Linked DNA regions of Homo sapiens. The protein of the gene in region 1 purifies or fractionates together with the protein of each later gene. This does not show direct contact. Each region holds a gene or a part of one and is shown in the gene's direction. Other genes may lie near its edges.

Region 1 (3,652 bases):
TAACATAGAACTTGATATAATGCAAGAGATGTTTGCAACAATAAAAGAGACAAAAGTAATCCCGAGTATATCTGATAACAATTGCTTTTTTCTTTTATTTTTTGCCTTTAGCGACAAGGTGCTGGGGCAACCAATGGAAAAGACAAGACATCTGGTGAAAATGGTAAGAGGACATGAATAGTCCAAGTTCTTTCTCTTTTGCCATCTGCAGCCCTGGGTATGCAGCAGGTGCGGATCATACATCCCATCCCAAACAGCTTACTATATGTGTCTGCGCTTCAGCTTACAGAGGATTTTAGCAATTCACAGTGAGCACTGAGGTCTGGTTTTATGAAGAAAACTGAGCTAGCTAAATGCCGTGATAAGAAGTTTCCCTTCCATAGGAGGACTCCCATTTTGGGCAACATGGTAATTACAATGCAAATCTAGTTCTCTGCTTTCTTCATTAGGGTGGGTGAGAATCATCCAAGTTGTTGTGAGGATAAAATGAGATCAAACGAGATAAGTGATTTGAAAACTGTGAAGTACACAACTTCTGAAATGATGTTTTAAAACTTGCTTCAGCCCTCCGGAGCACACACAATGCGGTGCTGGTCCACTGGAAGGTGCTGAGTCAGTGAATGTCACTGCAGCGATTCACCAGCAAATAAAAATGATAGCAGTGACAGGAACATTGCATCCTGCCTCTTCATGGGCCCATCTCAACCATGACCCTAAATTGTAGGAATGATCATCATATTTTTATGGATCAGGAAATGGAGGCTTGGCATTGGGGTGAGATTTAGCTAGAAATGGGAAGTGCATGGATCCTGAAGGAAATAGAGCCAGTTGGAACCCCAGGTCTCTAACTTTAGCAATTGACATAAGAACAAGCATAATAATAAAAAATACCCAGTGGTATGCACCAAGGGCCACAGCATAGTTCCGGTGAGGTGAGACTCTGGGTGTTCTTCCTTTCTGTTAACTCAAGATGAACTCTCCTTTTATGGAAAATGACTCTTGCTTCCAACTAGATGAAATTGATGCTAGTGTCCATCAATCAGATTGTGGATAATGCCAATCTCAAATACCATCGGTTAAAATTCCCTGGGGCCTCACAACCCCTTTGGAGCCTCTGTGGTGGGTCTGAGCTGAGCAAGACTCAAGTATGAGAATGTTGCTCTGCGTCTGCAGCCTGCCAATATGCCCACCCATTTAGGGCAGTCCTATTGGGCAGGGTGAGTGCAGTGTTCCCTGGGTAAAGGGGTCATCATATCAATAAGTAGAGAGGTGGGGGCTCCACAATGTCCTAATTGGAGCTAGGGGGCTGGGAGAAGAAGGAAACAAGGTTTTCCATGAGGCCAATGGCTCTTCCTTTGCTGCCCAGGGCTTTTCCTGTCTCCTGTGTGTGAGTTGGGGTGGGTGTGTGGGGTACTGGCAAGGAAGGCAGGAAGCAGAGGAAGGAGCAAAGGATGGGGCTTAAAAGGGAGGAGCAATATTGTAGTTGCCTATATGAGGAAGGACCCACTGCCTGCCATAGGGGAGCATAGGGCGCTGTGAGCCTCCACTGATTTTCCCAGTTCATACATTCGTAGCCATCTGTTCATGCAAGTTCCTTTCCACTGAACCTCACAACCTTAGAATTAGAGTTTTACAGTCAGAAGACTTCTCAGAGATCCTCTATTGTCGTGATTCTCAACTTTTTTTTGAGACAGAGTTTCACTCTTGTTGCCCAGGCTGGAGTGCAATGGGACAATCTCGGCTCACTGCAACGTCTGCCTCCAGGGTTCAAGTGATTCTCCTGCCTCAGCCTCTTGAGTAGCTGGGATTACAGGCACCCACCACCACGCCTGGCTAATTTTTGTATTTTTAGTAGAGACAGGATTTCACCATGTTGGCCAGGCTGGTCTCGAACTCCTGAACTCAGCTGATCCACCCGCCTCGGCCCCCCAAAGTGGTGGGATTACAGGTGTGAGCCACTGCACCCAGCCAACATTTTTGTTCTCACAACTCCTTTCCATTTTAAAGAATTCTTGAGGACCCCAAAGAACTTTTGTTTATGTTGGTGATATCTATTGATGTTTGTCATGCTGGAACCCTACTGACTCTTATAGAGATGGTACTGAAGAAAAGACCTGGAGCCAGTGAACAAGACATAGGATTTATTGAGGGGAGTTACCTATAGGGCAGTCCAGTGGCGGTGGGCTGGATAAAAGAACCACAGCTGCCTGTAACAAGCATGCAGTTTACACAGCGTTTTCACTTAGCACCCTCCCTCTAGCAACTTCTACTTGGCAATCTACATTCATTCCAAAACAAATGTCCCCAATCCCCTGTATGGCCTGCATCCCATGGGATGGGCTGGGAATTCAGATGTTCCTCATAGATAAGAATGAATCTCTATACTGGCCACTCCCAGATTCCTTAGCTCGGAACTCGACTCCAAGCACACATTCTTCTTAGACCATAGGGTCATTCTCAGGGTATGCTTAAGTTACGCTATTGATATCAGGTGTATCTGCCATACACTGTCTCCTATATTAGAAATTAAAATGGAGAAAGTTTTAAATGGTTTTTCTTATTAATTTATTAAAAATAAAATAATAAACCCACTACATGTGAATGTAAGTAACATTTTAAAAAATGAAAAGTCATTATATTTTCCAAAATGGAAAAGGATATTTAGTAAAAAGTGGCAATTTTACATTTCTGCAACTCTCTTTAAAGTCTGGTTTGACAGAGGACAGCTGGATTTTCATACTGGCTTCTGTGTTCAATCTGTTATATCATGTGATGTGTAGCCTATGGAAAATTCCACTGCTCACTTGTGAGAGTATGAGATTTAAAAGAGCAAATAATATCCTTTAAGATCAAACTCTTACCTTTTATAATAATAATATCTTTTATAAGACCAAAAATGTTTTTGATCTTTTGGGCTCCCTTAAAGGATGTAGGCACCCCCCAGGGTACCTGGTTCACACTTTGGGAACTACTGCTCAGCATGTCTCATGTCATGCCTTGAGGAGCCTGAAGACCAGGCACATGGTGACGAAGCCAGGACTAGGTCCTATGTGTTCGATGTCTCTGCCCCTTGGCTTTATCTTGACATCCTATTGGTCTTTCAAACCATGCTGACATGCTCAGTGCTTTGCACCAAAGGGAATTACCGGCTACTATAAGTGATGCCATTTTCTGCCATTCAAAGACATGGAATTTCTTTTAGCTGAAAACCAGTCCACACCAGTGGAAACTGAGTGAGGTTTTTTATGGAGGTATAAAAATTAATTAAATGGAAATATTCCTGATGCTATGAATAAGGCTTTTCATTAGATAATTCTAGATATTAAATGATAGTCACTTTTGGGTAGAAAAGTGAATTTGAGATTATTTTACAGTTACTGGATAATGGCAATGTATAAATGTAAATTATTATTAACATGCTATACTTTAATTTCAGCTAAAACTGCCTATATATGATATTTGTACGTGATACTTTATTATAATTTAAAGTCTGTGCTTTTGCCTTTAAAAAGGAGCAAAGACAAAAACTGGAACAGCCCAAGAAAGATGAGGGTAAAAACTTCTAGAAGTAATCTAAAAAACATTTTCCTAAAGAATTGAAGTTACTTAATTTTTTATTCTTAAATTCCTGATATGAGACGATCATCTTGGA
Region 2 (3,652 bases), on another chromosome or scaffold:
GCACTCTTCTGGAGAGTGAAATTGAACTTCTGTTTCAGGAGCTGTCATTGACTGGCCCACAGAGGAGGGCAAGGAAGTATGGGATTATGTGACGGTCCGCAAGGATGCCTACATGTTCTGGTGGCTCTATTATGCCACCAACTCCTGCAAGAACTTCTCAGAACTGCCCCTGGTCATGTGGCTTCAGGTAAAGTAGCTTCCCAGCCTGGCCTGAGGTCAAAGCCAAGTCTCCTCTGTGTGGCTCTTTGCTTGCTTTTTGGGCTGATGTCTCAGCAGTGAAGGGCGGATTTGGTCCAGCAGTGTGACCTGGGGGTTCGGCGTGCTTCTGAGGTAGGCTGAGGCAATGGTATAGCCAAGGAGGCTAAATCAGAGGGCGAGGGGGTTCTAGCCTTTTGCCAGAGTCTCTTTATATTTCCAGACGGTCACAAGAAGGCTCACTGAAAACTCCTGATGATACATTTGAATACATAGTGATAGAAAGTGTTTTGAGGCCGGGCACAGTGGCTCATGTCTGTAATCCCAGAACTTTGGGAGGCCGAGGTGGGTGGATCATACGAGGCCAGGAGTTCGAGACCAGGCTGGCCGACATAGTGAAACGCTGTCTCTACTAAAAATATTTAATACAAAAATTATCCAGGCATGGTAGCACATACCTATAATCCCAGCTACTCAGATGGTTGAGGCATGAGAATTGCTTGGACCCGGGAGGCGGAGGTAGCAGTGAGCTGAGATCGTGCCACTGCGCTCCAGCCTGGGCGACAGAGCAAGACCCTATCTCAAAAGAAAAAAGAAAAGAAAGTGTTATGGAAGGTTCCAAAGCAAAGACCTGAGGTAGCCTGACCCTCCCTTCCTCTCCATACAATCCTTTCCTGAACCCTAACTTCTTACCCCCAGAAAACCTGATCTTTTGAAGGGACTGCTACAAGCCTTCTGCACCTTCGTGTGACTGTTGCGCCTTCCCCCTTTCCCTGAGTGTGTTTGCATTTTAACCTTGAGCTCTGATTGTAGGATGGAAGGCAGGGAGCTGGTTGAAAGATTTGTAGGGACAGGCAGAGGCTCTTTTCTGGCATTTCTGAAATATCTGTCCAGAGATGGCCCACCCCCACCCGGAAGACCACCCACCAGGGAGGAATTAAGGAACATGGTCTTGCCTCTGGAAAATGTAGGCATGGCCCAGCTGGAACCCTGGGCCCCTCATCAGTAAATAGGGACCCTGGTGCTCACCTCCATAGGATGCTACTGGGACGTCTTCCAACAATGCTGGTATTTATAAGCAGCCTCCCACCACCTGGGTTTTGCCTCCCAGGATGGTCGATGCAGACTTTCTGGTGAGATAGAGCGAAAATGAGCAGTTTTCAGGGAGGGGCCTTTCTCTTTTGGAATTATCACTTGTGCCACCTCTGAGGGCTAGAGCTGAGGCTCAGCCCCAGGTGCGGTTATGATAATGCAGAAAAAGAACCCTTGTATGTCAGCCTGGGGAGCCCTGTTCACCTCCGGTGGCTGGAGACAAAGGTGCGGCACAATTGGCAGGGAGAGCCAGGCCGTGGACAAGCTCAGGCCTGCCGTCAGGGGCCTCGGGTTTTCAGTGCCTACCTGCCACTTAGAGCCATGGCAAGATACTTCCTCCTCTGGGCCTTGGCTGTCTAATCTGGGAGATTTTGGTGGTTTTCAAACTTTTTGTTCATCAGCAGAACTTTTCTTTTTTTTTTTTACCCCCAAATGAAAGCTTACAAAGGGGAGACAAAGCAGACAAAAGCACAAGTGCTGAGGCTGAGGCTTCTCCTTTGAAGTTTATCAACTGAAGAGAATAAATTGCTCTTCACTTACCCAGAGACCCAAGAGAGAAGAAGAAAGATTATGCTTACAGAAGAAATAACTAATTTAGATGAAAAGGAGATCTATTTTAGCAGCCTACTGAGGACATGGTGCTGACTTCTCTCGGGGGAATCTTTGAGAATCGAAGTCATGTCTTCTGAGTGGGTTAGCAAACTATGTTAGGGACACTTTCAAGTCTTCGAAGCGTTTCACTTGGTCCACTGACACACTGACTGTGTCTCAGAGTTTCTGGATAGCCCTGGGCCATGCTAGCACCCTATCCCAAAGTTCTAGACAAAAAAGAGGTTTTACAATAGGATATATTCACGTAGAACAGAGGCTTCCTCCATCCAGCATCTCATTGCCTTTTGAGGAGAGGGGAATGAGGAGAGAGGAGAGGGAGAGGTCATCTTCTGCTGTCTCCCTGGCATACCAGAAGCAGAGGAGAACTGAGATTTCTCCCACAAAGACCCAACCCCTAGGATTTCCAGCTTTTCTCCTTTTGCTTTGATCCTACCTCATCCTAATAAGTCCATTAGGAAAAAGGAACCCAGCTTTCATTGGAGGGTAGATCCCTGGCTTTAATTTATTGCATATTGCATTATAAATATTTTTCAATGTTGCCACATCATTTTTCGTAGTTCATGATTCTAAGTGGCAGTGTAGCATTCCATGCAGTAGATGTGGTATGGTTGCCTAACCTGTTCCCCTATTTGGGGGACGTTTGAGTTGCACCCTTACTTCTGTTATTTTTAATAGGACTGCGGTTAACATCTTCATCTGGTTTGTGAACTTTTTACTGCTTAGGAAATCTTAAGATACAAAGGGCATATGATCAGGGGGATGTATAGCCTTCCAATTTTATCAGAGTTAGGTTGGTCCAGGTTCAAAACATTAGTGTTGTAAAGTCTTTCCCTTTTGGGGCCCTCTTGCCGTTGCTAGTTACCCTTTAGCCCTGACTCTATCTTGTCTTTTTTTTTTTTTTCTTTAGATTTCCCTACACAAATTGCCCTGGCTTTTGTTTTGCCCAAGGTATTCCCTTTCATCTTTTTTTTCTTTTTCTTTTTTGAGATGAGGTCTCGCTCTGTCACCCAGGCTGGAGTGCAGTGGCGCAGTCTCGGCTCACTGAAACCTCCACTTTTTGGGTTCAAGTGATTCTCGTGCCTCAGCCCCCCGAGTAGCTGGGACTACAGGCGCACGCACCACACCCGGCTAATTTCCTGTTCTTAGTAGACGCAAGGTTTCACCATGTTGGCCAGGGAGGACTTGAACTCCTCTCGAACTCCTGACTTCAAGTGATCTGCCTGCCTTGGCCTCCCAAAGTGCTGGGATTACAGGCGTGAGCCACCGCACCCGGTCCCCATTTCGTCTTTTCATATCTCCCTTTCCTACCCATCCTGCTAGTGCACAGAGAGGCCATATCCTTTTATTCTAGGTCCTCTGCCCTTTCCCTCGCCTCAGCTGACAGGGCCCTTCTCATAGACTCCCCACCTCAATTGGCCCCTGGATTTGTCCAGAAAAAGCACTGACCATCTTTTCCCCTGACCACCTCCCAAAGAGCCTCCTCTTGTCTCAATTAGAAAGCCCACCCAACCTGTCCTATTTGCCTCTTAGTTTCTTTTTTCTCTGAAGCCCTCAGAGCCCATAGAACTGCCCCCAACACCGAGCTGTGGTTCAGAATCCTGCCTTTCCCTCTCCCATGGATGCTCACAGTATCAAACTCTCCCTGCCCTGGGACTTTAGAAACTGCTGCATTATATCCACAGAATCTGCTTGATCAAACTGCTTCTAAGTCTGGGTCCCTTATCAATCCACAGGGACTCTGAAGAGTCTCCCA
Region 3 (3,652 bases), on another chromosome or scaffold:
GTATTTGTCAGCAGTACCTTGCATCTAAATAGCCGATTACCGGCTGATTGGAATTAAACCTCTTTGATTCCGGTTTATCCCTCCTGGGGTCTTTCTCGAATGCCACTAATTTCCCTTAATGGTGCTTTTATAGTCACTTAACTTTGCTCAAAATCTCTCCGTACTTCCCTGTTTTCTGCTTCTCAAGTCTAGACCTCAGGCTACCTTTCAGGGCCCTCCAGGTCTTGCCACACCCTCCACATCCGCTTGTACCTTGAACACTCACGGACGAGCCTGCCCCTCATGCCCCTGCACCCGCATCCTGGTTTCTGGAAGGCTTTCTTCTCTGTGTATCGGTAACCCACCTATCTATCAAGATCTAGTTCGTAGCTGCTTTTTTCCACGAAATCTTCAGTCCTCGCAGAGGTCCAGCTTCTCCAAACATCCCTAATGCCAGTAGGTGGCACTGTTGTTTACACGCTTACCACGGTCTTGCGGCCCTCCCTGATCACGTGATAATGTCTCTCCAGCTAGGTGGTAATGGGATCAGGAGGGTGTGTTTTGGGTCCTATGCTGAGGGCATGTTGGTTCATTAAATATGTGCTGCAAATATTTTTCTTCTTTGATTCCCAGAAAGCTGTGATTGGAGATGCCTCAGAAACTGCTCTTTTAAAATTCTCAGAGGTCATTTTGGGTGATGTGATGGAAATTAGAAAAAGAAACCGCAAAGTAGCTGAAATCCCTTTTAACTCTACTAATAAATTTCAGGTGAGTTTTTCCTCACAACCGGTAATCTCTGTCATCGGCAGCATGACCTTTCTACTTGCATGCATCCTTTGCTTACCTCATATTTTGAAGGATACCTGGCTTCAAAGACAGTCGTCAGGGATACAGCACCCAGGCATCTGGTCCCCTAGGTCAAGCTCCCTTGCTGGCCTCCTTCCTAACCCTGAAGCAGGGCAGAGAAAGAAAGAAAGGCAAGGACTTCATCAGGGCCTGGCTGCTCCTATGAATGAGCCATCTCTGTCACAGGCACACACTCTCTCTCTCTCACACACACACACACACACACACACTCACACCACCACTATCAGGTACCTTCTGCCGTGAGGAGCAGCAGCCATACTCCAAAGCATAAATGCCAGGTGGGCAGCAGGGAGGCCGAACACCTGCTCCTCTCACCTCTAGTGCATCAGGCCCTCGACCTACGTGGCCTTGTTCCATGTTCGCATCCGGCCTGTGAGGTAGGACTGACGAATCCTGACTCAGAGGAGGAAGCAGGCCCTTAGAAAGTGTTGAGAGACCAGAGTCACACAGCACCCAGTGTTCCCAAGCCTGACACCAGGTCCACGATTCTTCCACCATCACACAGAGGGAGTGCGGCACAGTTCAGGCCATGGGAGCAAGCCCTGCCCTTTGGGGAGACCGGTGAGCAGCCCCTGGGGTGACAGCCCCGTCGTTTTCTGGGGCCAGCCCCTGTGCTGTGGGTGGGGGTCTCCTTTCCATCCCCTGCTCAGGTAGAAGACGGCCTTCCTTGCCTGGTTATCTCAGCAAGCAGGGCTGGCCGACAGTCAGCCATCACAGCCTCCCCATGTTAAGACAAATGACAGTTGGGAGCCCCAGGTCCCCATGCAGATGGGATTTTCCACAGAGCCCACACTGGATCTGGACTTGGGCTTTGCACAACAGTAAAGTATAGAAATGGAATAACCACAACTGTACGTGTGGAGATTTCTGGTGATTATCCACCTGTCTTAGTTCGGATGGAATTTAGGGTTAGGGAAGAACTCTTTTTTTTTTTTTTTTTTTTTTTTGAGAAGGAGTTTCACTCTTGTCACCCAGGCTGGAATGCAGTGGCACGATCTCGGCTCACTGCAACCTCCGCCTCCCAGGTATAAGCAATTCTCTTGCCTCAGCCTCCTGAGTAGCTGGGACTACAGGAATGCACCCCCTGCCCAGCTAATTTTTTTGTATTTTTAGTAGAGACAGGGTTTCACCTTGTTGGCTGGGCTGGCCTCGAACTCCTGACCTCCGGTGATCTATCCGCCTTGGCCTCCCAAAGTGCTGGGATTACAGGCGTGAGCCACCAAGCCCAGCCTAGAGAAGAACTCTTGTGTTGCAAATGTCTTCTTTGTGGATAGTGAGCCAACAGAGAATCACAGTTAGCTAAATAGACAACTAACCAGAAACATATGATGTAAAATACTCAAGCCAAGAAACCACATCTCTTACGTAAAACCAAAGTGAAAATAGAGTGCGCAACAGTCCTAAAAGACTGTTTTAGGATGAGTATTATTATACTAATAATACTAGTGATAATAGGAGCTATTCTGTGCTAATTTCCACAAGTATTAAATTATTCATTCGCACGACAACACTGTGGGGTGGCTAGAGGATGAGGAGGTTGAGGTGCCGCGCATCAGTGCACAGTGTGAAGATGGGGTTAGATGATGCCTCCATCAGCAGCAGGACTTGGAGCCCTGCTGAAGCTCCATCTCCCAAGGTAAAGGCATGCCCAGTTGCAAAAGGGAGAAAAAGCAGGTTCCATGAGGCCTCATGTACAAGTTGGAGGAGAAAGTGGCTACACAGAGTGGGACTAGAAAGGGGAGAGGGGGGCCGGGCGCGGTGGCTCACGCCTGTAATCCCAGCACTTTGGGAGGCCGAGGCGGGTGGATCATGAGGTCAGGAGATCGAGACCATCCTGGCTAACAAGGTGAAACCCCGTCTCTACTAAAAAAAAAAATACAAAAAATTAGCCGGGCGCGGTGGCGGGCGCCTGTAGTCCCAGCTACTCGGGAGGCTGAGGCAGGAGAATGGCGTGAACCCGGGAAGCGGAGCTTGCAGTGAGCCGAGATTGCGCCACTGCAGTCCGCAGTCCGGCCTGGGCGACAGAGCGAGACTCCGTCTCAAAAAAAAAAAAAAAAAAAAAAAAAAAAGAAAGGGGAGAGGGGCTGTGTGAGTTCCTGCTGAAGAGGTCGGAGGTGCTGTCTGGATGCTGTTAGGGTCATTTTATATCTACACATGAGCGGTGCTCAGCCTCACCAGGGCTTTAGATGTCATGGCCTTGGAAGGAGACGTCTCTGCGGGAAGGAAATAAAATGGAAAGCCTGTGTCTTATTGATTAGAATGGTGATGCCCCAAACACACTGGTCTGTTAAGACATTTGAAACAGTTTACGGCAAATTGGAAAATGTTTTATAAAGTTTTATATAAAGATGAATGTATTTAATTTAAAAGATTATCCTTTGTAGCCACCATGATTAAGGGCAGGGACTCTGGAGCCTGCTAGCCTGGGCTCAAATCCCAGCTCAGCCACCAGATAGCCACCTATTGCTCAGTGACCCTGAGTGAAGCATTGAACCTCTGTGCCTCAGTTTCCTCCTTTGTAAAAGGGAATAATAATAGTACCCATGGCCTTAAAGTTGTTTTGAGAATAAATAAGTCGATGTGGACAGCACTTAGAACAGTGCCTGGCACGTGGTACATACCATAAAAGTGTTTCATATTATCCCTATGTTTTAAATGTAAAAAGCCTTATCTTGGCCAGGTACAGTGGCTCACACCTGTAATCACAGCACTTTGGGAGATCGAAGAAGGCAGATTGCTTGAGCCCAGGAGTTCAAGACCAGCCTGGGCAATATACCAAGACCTTATCTCTACAAAAAAAACAAAA

What was found.
Region 2: the proteins of PCP4 (region 1) and SCPEP1 purify together in Homo sapiens (affinity purification with mass spectrometry; one large-scale study listed by BioGRID and IntAct). This does not show direct contact.
Region 3: the proteins of PCP4 (region 1) and ATP12A purify together in Homo sapiens (affinity purification with mass spectrometry; one large-scale study listed by BioGRID and IntAct). This does not show direct contact.

Annotation. Positions count from the first base shown.
Region 1 is NC_000021.9:39,898,365-39,902,016, forward strand, and holds part of PCP4 (calmodulin regulator protein PCP4), read left to right. Parts: intron 1-111; coding exon 112-163; intron 164-3,652. UniProt on the Homo sapiens protein: Functions as a modulator of calcium-binding by calmodulin. Thereby, regulates calmodulin activity and the different processes it controls.
Region 2 is NC_000017.11:56,981,044-56,984,695, forward strand, and holds part of SCPEP1 (retinoid-inducible serine carboxypeptidase precursor), read left to right. Parts: intron 1-38; coding exon 39-187; intron 188-3,652. UniProt on the Homo sapiens protein: May be involved in vascular wall and kidney homeostasis.
Region 3 is NC_000013.11:24,693,832-24,697,483, forward strand, and holds part of ATP12A (potassium-transporting ATPase alpha chain 2), read left to right. Parts: intron 1-612; coding exon 613-747; intron 748-3,652. UniProt on the Homo sapiens protein: The catalytic subunit of a H(+)/K(+) ATPase and/or Na(+)/K(+) ATPase pump which transports K(+) ions in exchange for Na(+) and/or H(+) ions across the apical membrane of epithelial cells.